2 linked regions of the Homo sapiens genome follow. The protein of the gene in region 1 purifies or fractionates together with the protein of each later gene. This does not show direct contact. Each region holds a gene or a part of one and is shown in the gene's direction. Other genes may lie near its edges.

Evidence for each region. The genes of interacting proteins can lie anywhere in the genome.
Region 2: the proteins of BCL11A (region 1) and SMARCA1 purify together in Homo sapiens (affinity purification with mass spectrometry, with the first as the bait; one large-scale study listed by BioGRID). This does not show direct contact.

What each region holds. Positions count from the first base shown.
Region 1 is NC_000002.12:60,463,155-60,466,654, reverse strand, and holds part of BCL11A (BCL11 transcription factor A), read left to right. Parts: intron 1-3,500. UniProt on the Homo sapiens protein: Transcription factor. Associated with the BAF SWI/SNF chromatin remodeling complex. Binds to the 5'-TGACCA-3' sequence motif in regulatory regions of target genes, including a distal promoter of the HBG1 hemoglobin subunit gamma-1 gene.
Region 2 is NC_000023.11:129,464,491-129,467,990, reverse strand, and holds part of SMARCA1 (SWI/SNF-related matrix-associated actin-dependent regulator of chromatin subfamily A member 1), read left to right. Parts: intron 1-2,028; coding exon 2,029-2,147; intron 2,148-2,258; coding exon 2,259-2,471; intron 2,472-3,500.

The sequences.
Region 1 (3,500 bases):
GAGCAGGGCATGCACCCTGAGACCAGATTCAAAGCCAGTTGTTTATTTTTGTTAACTCCTAGGTAATCCTAGGTAACAAAGAGTTATTGTGTGAATTTCATAAGCCCTCAGGTCCTGAGGGCTGGGTGGTTCAGGGGTTAAAAGCACCTCATCTGCTCCCTTCCCCCAAGCTGGGCCTAAGCCTGGGTTAGGTCACAGATTGCAGAAGGTTTAGGAGGTTGGGCTCACGGTTTCTAGTCCCTGCATGCTGGCTGGGTGGGGAGAGCTCTCCTGTTGCTGGGGGCATCTGGGGCCTGCATGGGGCTGTGGAAACGGAGCCACTTTTGGAGGGAAGGGATAGAAGGGAGTTGAGCAGTTCAGAGGAGGGTGGAGTTGAGAGGCCAAGGGCTGTTGCCAGGGAAACATAGTTCTCGGTCTTCAGCCTGGTCTTCCTGAGGGCTGGGAGTTTGATTTGACTGGTAGGAAAGTCTGAGCTTGATAGGGAACCCCTGTCCTCTCCCACCTTCCCACAAAGGGAGGGTACATAGTTTGCTGGTGCCCCTGCTGGCAGGACCAATTTAGGAGTGACCAGAACAAGGTATGTGGAAGTGGGTTGTGGGGGTCCAGAAAGCTCTAGAACAAACCTGATGCCCATTCCACTTGGCGGCATTAACCTGCTGCCCCTGGCTTCCAGAGCTCATAGCACTTCCCTGTGGCCACTCTGCTGTGTGCCAGTCACCCCTGCTCTTTAACTAGAGCCTCCTTTTGGCCTGGGTTAAGGCCTGGACTGGGACCTTCCTCTGGAAGCCGTTCGGGGTGTGTAATGTGGTTAGTCATTACCCTCAGTAATTAATCACCCCTGGTAGTAATGAAAACTCACATTCACATTCGACCTGATAGTTTACAGAGGGCTTTTATATACTTCTGTCATTTGAACTTCCCAACAATTCTTACAGGTACTGTTTTTATGCTCATTTTACAGATAGGAATTCCAAGACTCAGAGAAATCAAATGACTATCCCAGAGTTACAATCTAGTGGATAATAGAGCTAGGCCTCCAGTCTCAGACCTCCTTGTTCTTCTGAATCTTGAGGCTTAGATCACATGACTTTTTCACATTGGTGACATACTAGAAATGGGGGTCATTCCTTCCCATAAAGTAAAATGAAATAAAATAAAAGCCAGTAGGTGGGCTAATAGCTGATTTTAACCCTTTTGATGTCTCAAGTTCCTATGCTTAGGGGCCAGGTGTCAGTTTATTGCTCTAAATCAAAACAATCCCCGTAAATGCCCAATGAGGCTCTCAAATTGAGAAGTTGATTTTCATCAGAGTAAATGAAGAATATTATTATATTTTACACATCAATAAATCAATGTAGCCCTAATTTTGCCACACAGGAAATCAATTCCAGTCTTTCTAAATCATCAAAGATGTTATGAACAAAGTAATTTCACAAATTATGGCAAGTAACACATTTATTGATGACTGCAGTTTAGGAATTTAGAATCTGTGAGCACTGTAATATAATATGGTACACCGGCATGAGCTGAGTGAAATACAGATTATATGGTGAAATTGTAATGCATCATTTGCTATTAGTGGACTGGTAATAATTACCAGTTTCAAAGCAGCTCTCTCCATGTAATCTTTAGTCTCAATCGTAACAGCCCTTCTCATTGACATTATGATTACACTAGCTGCCCTCATGATCTAGAATATCTAGTTGATGGGAATACTAAAATGCGATAGTGAAAACTGTATGTTGTATGCTCATTATAAGATAAAATGCCATTTTCTCTGACCTGATGTATGAGAGAGAGGGGAGGATAACATCACAGTGTTAACATACTGTAGCATGATCACATAACTGGCTCTGAAAAAAAGTTTAGGATGCTCAGGGCAGCAAAATAAAATGGACTTTTCTCATTTAAGCCTTTTTGAAAGGATACAAATGAGATCCTTGATGTAGTGCTGTATGCCACAGATTTTGGCATTTATCAATGACTACAATTCATGGCACATGTGAAACCAGCACCACTAATTATGAGTCTAGTCCTGGATTTCAATCGATGTTTTATAAGGTAAAATATAATTTTAAGGCATTTGGAGTGATGAACGTGTTAAGGACTTGGATTATCAGACAAATCTTTTTACTTGCCCAACTCAGATCGTCAGGCTAAATAGGAATGATAGTCACCCAGAGATCTAGGGAGGACAAGGAGGAAGCCACAGAGGATCATGTAGTTGGAACCAGATAGTTTTTTTTCCAGCCTATTTGGGACCCAAGTTATTGTTCAACAACAACAAAAAATTTATAAAAATGTTCTCAATGAAGCTTTTTATTTCCCTTTGAAGAGAGGAGGCAAACAAAAATAGGCAGATAATGTGATACTAATGTCAGCGTTTTCTTTCAAAATCTTTCTGCCTTTTTTCCCCCTTCCACATTAGACAAATGTTTGAAACCTAATTTTGGTATCTTACCATCTAATCTTGTTTAAGAGATTTACCCAGGAGTGAGATATATTGAGTGGGATTATAAATGCGTTGTAAAGTAAATTACAAGGTCAGGGCAGGAGTCCATTATTTAGACAAGTGCTTGAGCGAGGCTGGCTTATTTTGGAATACCAGTGTTTGGGGGCTCCTGAGAAGACCCTGCCGGCTTTTCTTTCTGACTTGCTAAATGGAGGCATCATATAATTGATTAATTCCTCATTCTCACTCTTAACCTCCCTGGTAGATTTTTTTTTTTTTTCCTTCTTAGAAAGTTACTGACAAATACTAGCTGTGGCCTTAAAGAACTCTTGCAGCCCTTCTTTTAAAAGAAGGAGAAAAGTTTGTTATTTCTCAGTTATATTTTAAGGCTTTTTTTTTCAGAATCTCTGGGAAGTTTTGTTTTTCTCATCCTCGTCCTTTGGCTACCATTACTTCTGCCCTTTTTAATGTTGCAGTTGACTAGTAAACTGTTGGTCAGTTATTCCATATATATATATATTTAATGTAGCTATCTCCCCATATATATTTAATTTAGCCATCTCCCCAAATGAAATATTTTGTGAAGTCAAGCTGGCCCTTCTTTGCCAAAGTGGCATTTACCACTCTTGGGTTCTTTTCAGCAAGGGAAATAATGTGACTTAAGCAGGGCCCCTCTCCAGACGGCTTGGCTACTGGCCAGAGTTGACTAGCTGAACTGTATCTTTCTGTTTCTTTCTCAACTGGAGCTGAGTCCCAGCCGAGGGCGCAGGATGTTGTATAATTTGGTTCACGTTGTTAGCCTCTCAAAACAATGAGGAGGAGGATAGTGTAGCATTTCTCAGCCTGCTGCCTGTCATGGCGCTGGCTGTTTTAACTGTTCCTTAAACTAGGATGCTGTGTCTGCTTAAGTCGGCACCAGCCACTCCTCCTAACTTTTCCAGACTTGCATTTGTCTGACCGGGGGACAACTCCTAAAGATTGGATACAGCCTATCCGTTAAATCTGAATGAAGTTTTTCTTTCAGATTTTTTAAACATTCTTTGAGATA
Region 2 (3,500 bases), on another chromosome or scaffold:
TATATGTAGTACATGGGACTTTTCTAACTTCCAAATAGGTTCAGCTCTTAAACTTATCATTTGAAACAAGATGTTTAGAATCTAGAGCATTTTTTGTCATTGAAACAATGGCAAAGTAGGTTTAAGTTTACAAAGTAGGTTTAAGTTTCTATGATAGCCCCTGCCCCAAATCTATTTAACCCTACCACTGAAATTCTGTTTTTGCAATAGTAGGAAAGAAACATTACAGTACCAATAAATATACTAAAGATTAATAATAGCTAGGAACAGCTTTTAATTTATCTAGCATGCTAGTGCTTGAAGAAATCCAGATTTAATTAGAGAGATTTTTTTTTCTTCTGGAAATCTAAAAGAGTCTTCTGGGGGACTTCAGAGGTCAGTTGTATTGAGTTTTTATTACATATAATATAACATTAAGTATATGAACTTCCTTTTCCTTCATACCAGCATGATATTACTATTACTCTGAACATTTAGCACATAAATTTAGGGCATTTGGAGGCTTAGGGGAAAAAATAGATTGAAGAGAGAAATTTTAGCATCAAGAGTTGAATGAAAAGAATGTAAAAGGGTATGTGCAGAGAGATTTTTAAGAAGAATTTTTTTCAGAAGATAGGCAGGGAGATAACATCGGTGTATGTGAAGTTGCAAGAAAAAAATGTGATTTAAAAAGATGATCCTGTCAGACTTTCTTTCAAATTTGACACCAAGCCAGGTGGCATGACTAGCTCAGGACTATTTAATTGCTGCCTGCCAGGTTGGGGGCCATGTCACAGGGTGAGGAGATTGCAATGAGTTTGTTGTAGTTGGTTACAGTAAGAGAAGAAATGTGTACAATTGACCACCCATGAATATACAGTATCCTGTACATAGCAAGTGTTTAAATATTTGTTGAATGAATATGTGAGTGAATGAGTAAATGAACACAGGTGCTTATAAAAATCAGAGTGCTCACATACCTTTCTTGATAGGCTCTAAAAATGAAAAGCTTGAGGATGTGGAGTATGTCATTAAAAGGCCTTTCATTGAAGTCATGTGACATATTAATACAGCCAGATTATTTGGCTCATCTATAAAATTTGGTTGAGTGACTTGGAATGTTTTTCAGTGTGTATGCAATTAAAATCCCAATGAGGTTTTTTTTTTTTTTTTTATGAGAAAAGGGTATTCCAAGTAAGTTTAAAAACACACTACTGGTCATTGGAAATACCGTAAGATGATTAGTGAGTGATTCCAAAAGCAAATGACAATTTCAAGAGAAATGGCTGCTCCATAGAAAAAAATTTGAACAACCTGTTCATAATAGCTTGGGTTTTTTGTTTATTTGTTTGTTTTTGAGATGGAGTCTCACTTAATCGCCCAGGCTGGAGTGCAGTGGCGCGATCTCGGCTCACTGCAACCTCCACTTTCCGGGTTCAAGCAATTCTCCCGCCTCAGCTTCCCGAGTAGCTGCGATTACAGGCACGCACCACCATGTGCAGCTAATTTTTGTATTTTTAGTAGAGATGAGGTTTCACCATGTTGGCCAGGCTGGTCTCAAACTCCCAACCTCAGGCAATCTGCCCACCTCAGCCTCCCAAAGTGCTGGGATTACAGTGTGAGCCACTGTGCCTGGCCCATAATTGTTTTCGCATGCTAGGAAGCTATATTCACTGTTTATATATTACTCTCTCCTGTGTCACTTTATGTGTTTGGTCCCTTTTCTATCATGTTTGAGTAAAAAGCCTAGCTTAAATCAGTATCTGCATCATCTTTTGAAATCCTAGTCATTTGGGATGGATCGTAAGACTCCGTACTATTTCATGAAGGAAAATTGCTAACCTAAAACCTTGTTTTGAGGTCTTATTTTTAAGTGAAAAGTTAGTAGTATTTAATAATTTAACATATTATATATATAAGATTAATCTGAATCTTAATTTTAAGAAGTACAAGCTCATTGTATTCTTTCCTATTAATTCCTTATTCTACAATTCCTTGGATTTATTTGCTTAAATGATAGGATTTTAAAGAAATAACTCTGTTTTTCAGCTGTATTTTGGGAACGTTGCAATGAATTACAGGACATTGAGAAAATTATGGCTCAAATTGAACGTGGAGAAGCAAGAATTCAACGAAGGATCAGTATCAAGAAAGCCCTGGATGCCAAAGTACTATGTTTTATGTCAAATTATTATTAGATCGTTTTAATTGAAATAGTGGTCAGCTTTGACTTCTTACTGCACATTCAATTAAAAGCACTATTTTGTTTAAATACACAGATTGCAAGATACAAGGCTCCATTTCATCAGTTGCGCATTCAGTATGGAACCAGCAAAGGAAAGAACTATACTGAGGAAGAAGATAGATTCTTGATTTGTATGTTACACAAAATGGGCTTTGATAGAGAAAATGTATATGAAGAATTAAGACAGTGTGTACGAAATGCTCCCCAGTTTAGATTTGACTGGTTTATCAAGTCTAGGACTGCCATGGTATGTATTCCTTTCTTACCGATTTCCTCCAACTTTTTATTTTGAAAAATTTCAGATGCCATATATCCTTCACCTAGATTCTCCAATTAACATTTTGACACATTGGCGCTCTCTCTTTCTCTCTCTCTGTGTGTATGTGTATACATACGTAGCACCTATATATACGTGCAGAATCTATATTTTGTATTAAAAAATACGGGGACATCTATATTCTATATTCTGAAATGCGTATCTATATTTTATAAGTATACTTAACTATATTTATGAACCATTTGAAAATTACAGACAATGTGAGTGTTCATCTCTAAATACTTAAGCATGTATCTCCTAAGAATAATGACATTTTCTTACATAACCACAATCCCACCTGAAAACATTGATTCAGTAATGTCATTTAGTATACAGTCTATGTATAAGCTTTTCCAGTTGCCCCCAAAATGCCCCCTTTATAGCTGTTTTTTTTAAAATTGATGATCCTGCAAGTTTCACACATTACATTTCGTTGTTGGGTCTCTTTAATCTCTTTTAATCCACAACCTTTTGGTTTTCGTGATCATGACTTTTTAAAGGTGTCCAGGCTAGTTGTCTTGTAGAATGTCCCACATTGTGGATTTACCTCATTACTCATTGTAAGATTCAGGTTCAACGTATTTGGCAAGAGTGCTGTGGAAGTGATGTTATGTATTTTTTATTGCATCCCATCAGAAGGCACATTATGTCATGTTGTCACACTGTTGGTGATGCTAAGTTTGGTCACTTGTTAATGTGATGATCTTCAGAGCTCTCCGCTTTAGAGTTATGTTTTCCCCTTTGTAATTAAGCAGGTTATGCTTGAGACTATGCGAATGACTTAAAGATGGACTTTTAATGAAAAGGAGTTGTTGCCTAAGTTGAGTTTTTTATTAGGAAACAGAATATTTAAGTTGAAGAGATATTTTATTTTAGCTTATGTGATTTCCTCCATTACTTTCTAATGTGAATTGTGTTCCTATTCTAGTCCTACTTAGCAGTGGTGTTCATGATGATTTT